3 separate regions of the Homo sapiens genome follow, and all the other regions are reported to be linked to region 2. The links are microRNA targets in miRTarBase. Many come from high-throughput screens and were not tested one by one. Region 2 holds a microRNA gene; each other region holds the end of a gene's coding sequence.
What was found. The annotated mature microRNA hsa-miR-4312 reads GGCCUUGUUCCUGUCCCCA and lies in region 2 at 1,250-1,268, opposite strand. An mRNA with a match to its seed (bases 2 to 7 or 8) in the 3' UTR can be bound and repressed. Matches are read on the target gene's strand: a 7mer-m8 pairs with bases 2 to 8, a 7mer-A1 pairs with bases 2 to 7 and ends in A, and an 8mer does both.

Region 1 (4,201 bases), not on the chromosome of region 2:
CCATCATCCAGCTGGCTACGGGAGAGCTGAAGCGGGTGGAGGACCTCCAGACCCAGGATTTTGTGCGCAGTGCCGAAGTGAGCGGGGGGCTGAAGATTGACTCTAGCACGGTCGTGGACATTCAGGAGAGCCAATGGCCTGGATTTGTCATGCTGCATTTTGTGGTTGGTGAGCAGCAGAGCAAAGTGAGCATCGAAGTGCCCCCCGAGCACCCCTTCTTTGTATATGGCCAGGGTTGGTCCTCTTGCAGCCCTGGGCGGACGACACAACTCTTCTCTCTGCCCTGCCATCGGCTACAGGTGGGAGATGTCTGCATCTCTATCAGTTTACAGAGCTTGAACAGTAACTCAGTTTCTCAGGCCAGCTGTGCTCCCCCAAGCCAGCTGGGTCCCCCCCGAGAAAGGCCTGAGAGGACGGTCTTGGGATCCAGAGAGCTATGTGACAGTGAGGGGAAGAGCCAGCCGGCAGGAGAGGGCTCCCGTGTGGTAGAGCCTTCCCAGCCTGAGTCCGGTGCTCAGGCCTGCTGGCCAGCCCCGAGCTTCCAAAGATACAGCATGCAAGGGGAGGAGGCACGGGCTGCGCTGCTCCGTCCCTCTTTCATTCCACAGGAGGTAAAGCTGTCCATTGAAGGGCGTTCCAATGCGGGAAAATGAACCTCTTCCCCAGACCAGGACTGGGGCTTTACCCCAGAGCCTCGCCTCGCCGCCGTGAGCAGGCAGAGGATTTGCACACGCCGAGCAGGGAATGGCTTTCTTGGCAGTGAGATTTGGGGGAAAGGGGAGGCATGAAGTCAGCCTCCCAAGGCAGGATCTGTTGTTCATTACCCCATGGCATCCTTTCAGGACAACCCCAGAGGGTGTTGTGATGGGGAGCAGCAGGCCTGGGGCAAGGAAGGAAGGGGGTGCACACAGGAGAAGAAACATTCCAAAATCAGGGCCTCCCTGTTCTTTCCTCCCCATCCCTAGCTCCTGCAAGAGAAAGTCCAGGCTTTGGGAGCAGATGGCAGAGGGAGGGAGTAAAGAAAGAGCCAAAAATGATGATCCACAGCTTATAGTAGCAGTTAAACTGTCAGAAGTTTTTTTTCTTTTTTGTGGTAGAAGGGCAGGAGGCCCCAAGGTTGGAAATAAGAGGGTTCCCACCCAGAACCCTTCTTGTGAGAGATGCGCACTTTAAAGGGTGATTTTGTTCCAGATGTCTATGGCTGGGTGTGTGGGGGAGGAGCACTCTCATCTGCAGGACTCTGCTTGATCCTCTGCTTCATAGCCCTTCCCCATCTCTCCTCACCATTCTGCCTACAAGGCTTCTAGCAGCACGGGGGCCCGGAGGGAGAGCCCCTTCAGGGTTCAGAGTGAAGTACTACCTTGCCAGGGACTCAGTCAGGGGACTTTGGGAGAAAGACTTGATAGCCAGGCTGACTGGGTTCTAGGCAGGCCCTCTGGAAAGGTAGCTCACCTAACAAAGCTCCTCCATCTCAGCATGCCAGACCCACTTTGAAATCTCACAGAATCTTGCTGGTAATGGTGACTTTAGAACTAGTAGACCCTTTTTCCCAGGCACTGACCCCCCACCTTTGTCTGTGTTGTGCCCAAGTGCCTGCGCCACCCCCACCCTCCTGCTGCGCTGACCGCTGCATGGTGTCGTGACCTGGGCCTCATTTGTAGCTGCACTGCCTTTCCTTGTCTGCAAAGTTGGTTTTGTCCACTCTGACCAAGACCTCTAGTTTTTGGTGGGTAGGGGGTCTCTCTGGTTTCCCCTTCAGCTATAATCTCTATTTTTAAAATCTCAAAATCATGTCCCCTCCACTTCCACTGCCAAACAGCTTGGTGAAGAAACAAGAAGGGAACTATGCCCTGGGCCAGGGCGAATGCGTGGCTGGGCAGTGCCCATCATGGCATTTTCACATGTCCCATATGCCCCTCCTGTCTTATTCCACTGCTTCTCCCAGCATTCTGGTGCCTCCAAGCCATCCCCTCCCACCACCAGCTCTAAGATTCTAGGATAGTCTTGATAACATTTCAGTACCTGAATAGATGTCATTTTGTGTTGGTATATTCCTCTGCAAAAAGTATTTTCAATCTTGGTTGCATTGGCACCCCCCCTACCCCCCACCAATGTCTTAATCCCACATTTTCTTCACAACTTTTAGCATCAGCTCAGACCGTGGGGTTCCACTGGGTATTGGGAATTAGGCTCCCCCACTAGCTTTCAGGTGGGTAAGTTTTTTTGTTTGTTTTTTGGGGGTCTTTAGACTCTTGAAGGCAACTCAGGGTATTGTCCACGCAGCTCTCTGGTTAGACTTCTCCCAGGCTATGATCCTGGCATGTCCTTTATAAGGTATACTTGGATTGGCCGAGACCTGGCCTGGCATCAGGAGTCCAAACCTCTGAGGTCTGATCTCTGCTCTGTCAAGGACTTTCGGCAAGTCTCGTGACCTCTGGCTCTTTCACTTCCTCCCCACCTGCCAAATGGGGATAAATAATCTTACCTACCTCCTGGGGGGAGGGGAAGTTCTGAGAATGGAGTCATTCTTAGTGTTCAGGTGCTAAAGGTTGTTCTCCTGGGGGAACAGAGTGACTGAAACTGGCTTGTTTGCTACAAGCCCTACCCTCCACTCTTTCATTCCTTGAAAGCAGTTTGCCTGGTCAGTCAGCTTTTGGGGGTCCATCAAAGGAGGTTGCTGACCTGACCGTGAGTGCTTCAGTATCTGGTTTGTGTCAGAACCAGACGCCAACTTTGTACTGCATTTGGGATCATATCTTTCCCCTTCTCTGTCCCCCATTCTCTGAATGCTGCTTTCTCTGGCTTGTTTCCTACAGTGGGGGCCTGTGGGGTTGAGTCTTGAGGAATCCCCTCAAATGAGAAGGCCTTGGGAGAAGGCCTCATCTCTGGCTGTTTCATGAGCAACTCATTCCTAGAGTTCATTGTTTGCATGGGTTTCTCACAAGCGTCCTTCCTCATAGGAAGGCTCATCAACTGAATTTAGTGACATGTACACAGTAGATGCTCAAGCAGTGTCTGCAAGGACACAAGCTGAGCTTTCTCCTTATGGGGCAAACCTATGTCTAACCAGATACAGACCAATTAGTTTAGATCAAATCACCTTCCACTTGGGCTACTTGTGACTTTCCAACCTGGTAACTTCCACTGAATTCTGGAAAGAGAAATTCTTGAGGACCCTGGCAAGTTGGGCCCTGACCTTTCTGTTGCTGTCTCTTGCTGGTGAAGCAATACCAGCAGTTCCTGTAATACCACAATATCGTTCCATGCATATATAACATATTAATACTTGATTTTGCTGAGCTGCAAAGGTATCTGTCATAAAATATGGTCCCCAGGAAAAGAATCTCTGTGCTCTAAATCTCGGTCAGAGCTGTGGCCTCCCCCTTGCCTTTAACCTCTAGTTTAGTCTTTTCCTCCAGGCATGAAAAATATGACTAACCTGTGGTGTGTCCATTCTTCCTTATAGGAATTTCCTGAGTTTGCAGGAGACATGAGAGCAGTTTTTAGCGAGTATTTTAGTGGGAAGTTGCCAACTTTTTAAGAATGAGCAGTTGACAAGGGCCAGAGCCTGTCCCTTGTCAGCAGTAGGACATTTCCAGCTCTTAGGAATAGAAAGGAGGACTGCTGACTGTCTGGCGCTGTATAAAAATGTGTATACCAATTTGGGAATAGGGGAACCCAGTCATGGATGGATAATAAGCCAAGTCTTGAATCATTCCTATCAAGATTAGTATACATGAGGAAGAGGTGGCATGGGGGGAAGGGGCTCTGGGAGTTCAGAGCTGAGTACTTGTACCTGAGGGAGGGCCCCCAGCCAATCTGGGCTGGTCCTTCTATATTCTTGGTCCCAGTTGGTCATAACACCAAGGGCTTTGCCCTGCGCTGCTTTGCCACTGCTGCTGTCCGCTCACTGTCCTGCCTGCTGTCCTCTACAGCTCCCTATCCTTCCATGTCTTTGGCCATGTAGATTAAGTGTAGGCGTCCGGTTCATTCTTACCTGTGTTAGGCCATGTTATTTTATAGCGAAGTCATGTTCGATAGGGATGGTATGAAATGCTGCTGGTGGGCTGGTAAATCCAAAGGGATAAGGCTTCAGTGCTGTTGGGAGCCCTCTGGCTCCAAATGTCTGACTATCTTGAGGGAGAAACAAGCAGGTTTCTACTAGTGGTGTCTTCTGTTGTATTAACTTCTTTCCTTTGTG
Region 2 (4,240 bases):
GCGGGCACCTGTAGTCCCAGCTACTCCGGAGGCTGAGGCAGGAGAATGGCGTGAACCAGGGAGGCGGAGCTTGCAGTGAGCCGAGATCCCGCCACTGCGCTCCAGCCTGGGCGACACAGCGAGACTCCGTCTCAAAAAAAAAAAAAAGAAAGAAAAGAAAAGGACAGAAAAGCAATAGTGACAAGGGACACTACTTTAGAGAGGGTAACCAGGAAGGCCTATCCAAAGTGAGCTTTCAGCAGAGACGTAAGGCCAAGTCAACAACTAGGAGGGCCTTCCAGACAGAAAGAAGGAAAAGCCAGGGCAAAGATCCTGAGTGGGTGGCATGCTTGGCCTTATTGGGGAACAGCTAGGAAGCCAGGTGGGTACGAGAGAATTTGTGGAAGGGAAGAAAGGAGGTGGCAGCATGAGATTGGGGTGGAGAGAAGGCTGCTGTAGGTTACACACCTTTACCCACAGGGGACATTCCACATGCAACTGGTGGTAGGATAGTGGGTTTCACAGGCAATGCAAGAAGAATTGCTTAGACCACAGGAAAGTAGTTAAGACCTGAGATCTGGCCATAAGCCTAAGAGTTACCTTGCTCTGCCTTAAAGGAAGAAGAAGAAGAAAAAAAAAAAAAAAAGCAAAGGAAAAAAGTGAAGGAGAAGAAGCTTTAATCAGGATTGTGCTTGCCCCATGTTTCCAGGTAGAAATGGGCCTAATCTACACCCCGGACATCTCCTATGGGAGAATGTTTTGATTATGGGGGTTTGGACACATGAGAAGTAGTCGGAAGATCTGGTTTGGTTTCAGGCTTTACTGCTTACAAACTGTGTGGCTTTGGACAAGACTTCACTGAGATTCAGTTTCTTCACCTGTAAAATGGGACGAGTCCCTACCAATCCCACCTGTCTCCATGGGACCCAATGAGATCATGGGTAAGCCAGGCTGTCCTAGAGGTTACTATGATAAATTTTATAAGCATGTTTCTTACCCAAGACTTTGCACCCCAGAAAGCAGAGGTGAGGTATTATGCAACTGATTCCCCCACACTGCCTTGCACTTAGCTTTCAATAAATGTTTGCAGAACTGAAAAGCATTAAAAATAACCCGGAAAATGTTCTGCCATTTTTTTCCTTCCTATTAAACTGTAGCACTTTGCCAGAATGCTCCAGAACAGTCTCTCTTCACTGTAATCCTTCACTTTGGAGGAAGAACCAACTGAGTCACACCAGAGGTGTGTGCTCAGAGGATAAACTCTGAGGAATGGGGACAGGAACAAGGCCTGACTCCTCTGGGGAAGGCTCCTTGCTCTCTGTGCCCCCAACCTTTCTCAAACATCCTGAGAGGGCCAGGCCAGGCTACCAACGGAAGGGACTGCAGATTACCCTAGCACAAGGTCAGGATCTCCTGGAAAAGTCCATGAAAGCCTGAGAAATACAATATTCACAACATTCCACTTCAGACTAAGGAGTCTCAATCTGGTCCAACTGCCTCACCATACGGATAGGGAGGCTAACACACAGGTCAGTGGACTCGCTGGTTCAAGGTCACCTCTTTTTTTTTCTCCTTTTCAATTTTTTGACTAACACATTCATTCTCATGGTTTTAAAACCAAAATATATAAGATATACAGTTAACTCTCCCTCCTATCTTATCCTCTGTCTGCCCAGTCAACTATACCACCTGCTAAGCATCTCTCTAGAATGTTCACACACATACAAGCAAATTCAGAATCTTATTTCTTCTCTCTTTTATTAAAAACCTAGCATATTATACTAATCATTGCCTTGCCTTTTTTTCATGGAGTTTGTGTAAGAGTACATAAAAACCCTCTTCGTTTCTTCTTTGCAACTACATAGTGTGTCATCATTTTTCTTAACCAGTCTCTTATTGATGAGTATCTGGGTTGCTTCCAATCTTTTGTGTAATAAATAATTTTGCAATATCAATAAGCTTGGGCATGTCAGTTTGCATTCACCTAGCTTACGGATAAGAGCTGGAATCAGATCCCATTTCTGACCTACAGGGTGGCAGTCATACAGCCTCAGAGTCCTATTATCTTATTTATTTATTTGAGACGGAATTTTGTTCTTCTCGCCCAGGCTGGCGGGCAGTGACGCCATCTCGGCTCAGCGCAACTTCCACCTCCCAGGTTCAAGTGATTCTCCTGCCTCAGCCTCCCAAGTAGCTGGGATTACAGGTATGTGCCATCATGCCCGGCTAATTTTTTATATTTTTGGTAGAGACGGGGTTTCACCATGTTGGTCAGGCTGGTCTCGAACTCCTGACCTCAGGTGATCCACCCACCTTGGCCTCCCAAAGTGCTGGGATTACAGACGTGAGCCATTGTGCCCAGCCCAGAGTCCTACTATCTAATGTCTAAGTTACTTAACCTCCATTCATTCAATACACGCTCCTCAGAACTACTAAATCCCAGGCACTACACCAGGTGCTGAGGGTACAATGATAAAGGTGTCTTTGACTTCTGCTCCCAAAGTGTCCAGCCTGGAAGGGACAAACAGAAGGGAACATTCCGACACACAAGGGCCGCTCAGTGTGCCCCGGAAGCCATCTGACCTTTGTAGGCCAATCTCTGTCAGGAAATGGGTGGCCTTACCTACACCTCAGGGGTGTTTTAAAAGGTAAAAAAGATAATGCTTGCCAAGTACCTAGCAAGCAAGGACCACACAAAGCTCATGGCAGATACTCAATAAGGGGTAAGCCTCCTCTTGTCCCAGAATGGGTCTTAGTGATGGCAGCAGCAAGGTGTTCCAGGCAAAGGCACTGCATTGCCATGCCTGTTCCACAATGAGCAATTCTCTTTTCTTAGAGGAGTCTGGAATACACTGCTACTTATTTTTTAAAGCAGCACCTAAGCCCCTAATTATGTCTTAGCCTACTTTTATTGGAAAGCCATTTGCCTCTCTCCCACATTCCAGACCCTCTTCAATATCTCTGAGGCACCTGGGTATGCTTCTCACCTGCGTGCACAAGCCCTGGTGTTTGATGGAGTGTCAGAGCCACAGAGGAAACCCACACACATTTCTTAAGACCCTGGCACAGAAAGGCACAGGCAGGCACATGGAAAGTCGCTTTTACTAGGATACCCCTGAAAGTATTAAATAATAAATAGAAAAAAAATAGGACAAAAATCATTAAATCTCACACATATTGTTTGGTTTTATGTGCTCTATTTCACAAACTTTTTTTTTTTTTTTTTTTTTTGAGACGGAGTCTTGCTCTGTTGCCAGGCTGGAGTGCAGTGGCACAATCTCGGCTCACTACAACCTCCGCCTCCCAGGTTCAAGGGATTCTCCTGCCTCAGCCTCCTGAGTAGCTGGGATTACAGGCGTGCACCACCAAGCCCAGTTAATTTTTGTATTTTTAGTAGACATGGGGTTTCACTGTGTTGGCCAGGATGGTCTTGATCTCCTGACTTCATGATCCACCCACCTCGGCCTCCCAAAGTCCTGGGATTACAGGCATGAGCCACTGCGCCCGGCCCACAATAAAACATTTTTAAAAATCAGAACTTTTGGCATAATCTATTTCGCTTTCCCAGGAAAAGAAATGTAGCAGATTTTATAACAGAGAAGAGAAAGTAAAGTCAAGTCAAGAGTCTAAGGTATTTCCATATTATCATCAAAGTTGCCGGGAGAAGGTTGGGGGTCAAAGCTAAGATTCCAGGTTGGATGACCTGGTTTTGTATCCAAGCACAGCTCCTCAGTACTACCTGACCTTAGGTTGGTTACTTAACCTTTCTGAGCCTTGGTTCCCTCATTGGCAGAGTGAGCATAATTCCATTCATCCAGCAGCATTTCTGTATAGATTAAAGAATAAATATGGTGCCTGGCACATTGGCATGAACAAACAGTTAAAAACAAACAAAACACATTTTTAAAAAGATATTACTTTTTCTATTTAGTACAAAAATGAAAATCTAGTGTCTTCCCTTGTTTTCTGAGTCTCGCTCTGTGGCCAGGCTGGAGTGTAGTGGCACAATCTCGGTTCACTGCAACCTCTGATTCTCCTGCCTCAGCCTCCTGAGTAGCTGGGATTACAGGCGCCCACCACCACGCCCAATTAATTTTTGTATTTTTGTAGAGATGGGGTTTCACCATGTTGGCCAGGATGGTCTCGATCTCCTGGCCTCGTGATCCACCTGCCTCGACCTCCCAACGTGCTGAGATTGTAGGCGTGAGCCGCTGCACGCGGCTGTGTCTGCCTTTGAGAAGCTTCAAGAAAAACAGTGGGC
Region 3 (4,204 bases), not on the chromosome of region 2:
CTAAAAGCCAGTGTGCCATGCTGCCCACCATGGTTTCTTCAAATTCTGATTTTCTGTAGGATGAATGGGTGCTCACTGGCATTCTGTTGAGGAAGTTCCTATTTCTTCTGTAGAATGAATCTGTGAGAACAGGAGTTTCTGGGCAATCAACTGAGAAGTCCAGCCAAGTCCATGGTGGGCTAGTAATCACTACCTTACTTCTGTTGTTTAGAATTTCCTCTTAAAATGCCATTAAGGAGAGACACTAGTCATGGTGGTTGCTTCTGGGCTTACTAAACTCAGGCACACTCATGGTAAAATGACAAGTAGTAGGGTATACCCTAACATCTTGACAAATTGGGAAATGGGTACCTGGTGATAACTTCAGGCAGTAATGGGCCAGGCGTGGTGGCTCATGCCTGTAATCCAGCACTTTGGAAGGCTGAGTTAGGAGGATTGCTTGAGCCCAGGAGTTCTGGTTGCAGTGAGCTTCAGTCATGCCACTGCACTTCCATCTGGGCAACAGAATGAGACCCTGCCATGAAAACGCCACAATATTATGACAGCTGAAGACCATCATCATTAACTCAGTGCAAGTCCTGATGCACTGCCAGAGTCAACATATGCTCTTGGATGAGACCTATTTTAGAATGAATAGATAAACATGTTTGAAGAGCATTTCTTGCCACCATTTGTCGATAGGTCAAGAATTGGGGAATTCTAATAGATTATTGTGGGAATAAGTGTGAGAGAATCAGGATCTAGGCTAATCCAATGTATTAATGATAAACATTTAATATTTCACATAGTTTCTATCCGTGATGCCTTTAAACGTTATGGAAATCAAATCTAGTAGAAAAATACCCAGTGCCCCATCTCTCCAGGGGTAAGGTTACTTGGAACAGTTTCAAACACTGCAGCTCAAAATTTTGAAGTTTTTTTCCACTGCTGTTTTAGGGTGGGGTCTGGAGCTTATGAACAAGTTGTGATCAAACGCTAGAAGTCAAGTCGGTGAAAACATTTCCTTGTGGATTTAAGATGTGAGTAGTTGATGTATCAAGGCATTTTATTCAAGCACTTAATAGAAAATGAACCTCAACTATCAAGAGGAAAGCCAATGCTGGTTTCTTCTCTGGAAGGACCCACCGCCATCCTGTACCAGCCACCAAAGGGGAACATCTACATGGCAGTCTCCAGGCACTGTGCCACTGTGTGCCTTGGAAGCACCTGGCTTCTGTGGTCACTGCACATCATAATGAAAAGCCTGCTTTTTCTTTCAGAACACCCCAGCGGAGAAAACAGCATTATATACATCGGAGTATCATTTTAGGATTCAAGTGTAAAAATCTGTGATCAAGAGGCTCAATAGATTTGGGCTCTATGGTTTGGTTTTTTTAGTTTGAGAGACAGTACATGAATATAACTTAAACCCTATAGATTTTGTCAAGATAGTTGTAATTCCTGTTCTGGAAATCTTCCCTATTACACTACCTACAGCATTGTATAAAGTGTGGGTGTTCATGCTTTGGGAAAATGTTAGACTACAATTTAAACATGTGATGTGCTTATTCATAATTCTCAGTGTATCAGTCATAAATGAAATAACAAGTGCATTTAAGTCAGAGATACGTGAATGGATGTAATGCCGTTATGCAGTATATATTGTTAATTGTCATTAATATTAGATGAGCTGCAGAACCACCCCCAAGCACTACATAAAAGACTCAAAATAAGTTTAACACTTACTGTGTTGGGCACCCTAACAGAAGAGCTATCTTAACTCATTGAATATTAAGATCTGCTGGTTTCAGGAGTCAAAATGTAGAAAAAGAGGAGAATTGTAATATGGTCAGAAACAGAGAAGCCTTTTCTATGTAAATTCAGACTTATCTGAGGCTAACAGTTTTCCGAAGTGGTGGTGGGTAGCAGCATGACAGCTGCTTGCCATGACTGATGCAGACTACTAGGTTTCCATTTTAGCTCTCTGTAGGTACTGTTTTCTTCCCCACTGTGTCGAAAGTGATTTGTTTTGAAGCAAGAGTAGAATATAACATCTATCAAATATAGCTTTTAAAATAAGAATACCTGGTCTGGATCCAGTTGAGCAGCACAGCAGATAAACCTTAGAGTTTTTCTGTTCTTACATGACGGTTTCCATGTGGAAAGATCTAAACTTTCTTGGAATCACTATTAGTGAAGAAAAATGTAGAATCTGTATAACCAGTAATTCCCCAATTCTTACTTTCAAAGTCATATCCAAGAAAGACAATATGTCAGAATAGAATGACTTTGGTCTAGGTGTTTTCACGTTGGCAAAAATAAGGAGGAAATTATATTATTTTAATATCCAAATTTAAAGGTTTGGAAAATTTTGAATAGTTAATATTAGAACTTATGTTGCTGTTTTTTATATTTCAAGGATTGAGTATTCTGCATTAATCCAATACTATTCCAACAAAGAGATTCTGGAAGTTTTTAAAAAATGATACCCTGTTTTATATTTTGAATGTAGAGAGACTCTGAGAGAGAGAATGTTCTGAGTTATACTTTTTATTTTTTAAGATTTATTTTTAAGAATAAAACATTGACCTGAACATTTTAGCCTAACCAAGGGACTTAAGTGGTAAAGACTTGCATTATGTCTTCATGTGAACTGATCCGTTCATTATATATTATGGGAAAAATCAAAGAAAGTTTTTTATAGAGATATGAAGATATTATTTAGAGAGATATTTATTATGACATTTTTTAAAAACATATTTTTCTATTTTCAAAATATTATTTCTAGGCTATATTTTTATTGGTGCTGTGCAAATGATTTTGCAGTTTTGAAAATGATAAAACTAGATTGTAAGTGGGGTTCAGTGAGGACATTCATCAGACACGTAAGAGGTGCTGCAATCAGGGTGATGCCCATCTTACTCATCCTTGGCTGCCCTTGGTCCGACACCTCTCTATACAAGACTGGTTCTCAGTATTTTAAATGGTACAGAATTCTTTTTAAAAAGTAGAGAGATTTTGAAAAGCATAAAAATCATGCCTTTATAATCTTAGCAGCCATCAGATACACCTTGATTTATGTAGTAGTAAATATAACAAATATTTTAATAAATAGAAACACTGATAAGGAAGAAAAAAGAACTAATGTCTATGTCTTCTGTAGTCAGCAAAAGTCTGGATCCATTTTCTATTTTGTGTTCCATTGGCACACTTTGTGTTCAAATTTCAGTGCAGTCCTTTCAAAATACTCGCTAAGGGTTGCCTAAGTGTCTGCCTTACTTTCTGATTGTCCTTTTCTGAGAGCATGGTTAAGAACATCTTAACCATATAGCTGTTGAAAAAATCTGTTTATTAAATAACAAGTTCACTTCTGTTTATGTTTTGAGTTTAGAAAATTTGACTTGAAAATTTAGATTATTAATAAATTTATTTTTAAATATTAAAGTCAAATTTCAAATCACCCAGTGTTGAAGAATTTGCAGATGTATACAATACTTTTTCTAATTATGTCTTTTCTATCTCCATGCCTGGCTTTTTCTAATTATATCCTAGAGAAAAAGACTAATGGTATTTCAAAGCTGTGTATTTGTGACGAGATAAAGAAGAGTCTTAAACATCTTGTTTGGGAGAATGCACAGGCCAGTCAGGAGACCCACCTCCTCCTGTGCCCTGAGCTGCTGAGACCCGACAGATCATGAAGGCTAGTAAAGGGCAGAGAAGGCCCTGAGCCATCAGTTTACACTCGAATTGTTGACTCCCCTTTGTGGTGTTTTTGAAGGCTGCTTATACCAACAGCTAATGTGGATTAGTGCTTATGATCTTGAAAAAGTCTTGACCAAGAATCCTAAACTCCACCACTCCTCCCATTCCAGCTTAACACTATCAGAATAATATCCAAATTCCAGATTTTTTTCTTTTTTACTTTTTTTTCTTCCTTTTTTAAGAGAGACAGTGTCTTGCTCGGTCACCTAGGCTGGAGTGTAGTGGCGCAATCGTTGCTCACTACAGCCTCCCAACTCCCAGGCTCAAATGAGCCTCCCACCTTGGCCTCCCAAAGTGCTAGGACCACAGGCATGAGCCACTGTGCCCAGCCTAGTTTCTTTTCTGTATGCTTTTTTTACAAAACTGTGAGCCACAGAGGTTGACCACTTAGCCAATTTGTTGCTAGAAGGGAGAAAAAAATCTCCAACTAGCCTCCAGACAAAACATACTCAAATTCAAACAG

Region 1: the mRNA of ATXN1L is a reported target of hsa-miR-4312. Seed matches in the 3' UTR shown: 7mer-A1 at 800-806 and 7mer-m8 at 1,295-1,301.
Region 3: the mRNA of EEIG2 is a reported target of hsa-miR-4312. Seed matches in the 3' UTR shown: 7mer-A1 at 1,037-1,043.

The regions. Positions count from the first base shown.
Region 1 is chr16:71,851,158-71,855,358 of GRCh38, forward strand. ATXN1L (ataxin 1 like) reads left to right here. Exons shown (of 3, transcript NM_001137675.4): 3 at 1-4,201. The coding sequence ends at 653. Among named protein-coding and RNA genes, the nearest start is that of ATXN1L, 7.3 kb to the left of the region's middle. RefSeq lists enhancers at 1-322, 2,142-2,281.
Region 2 is chr15:68,800,611-68,804,850 of GRCh38, forward strand. It overlaps MIR4312 (microRNA 4312), which reads right to left and starts at 1,315; the gene lies at 1,240-1,315. The region is part of intron 1 of ANP32A (acidic nuclear phosphoprotein 32 family member A); the gene reads right to left. It overlaps ANP32A-IT1 (ANP32A intronic transcript 1), which reads right to left. Exons shown (of 1, transcript NR_026808.1): 1 at 3,211-4,240.
Region 3 is chr1:108,634,172-108,638,375 of GRCh38, forward strand. EEIG2 (EEIG family member 2) reads left to right here. Exons shown (of 11, transcript NM_001010883.3): 11 at 937-4,204. The coding sequence ends at 979. Among named protein-coding and RNA genes, the nearest start is that of HENMT1, 25 kb to the right of the region's middle.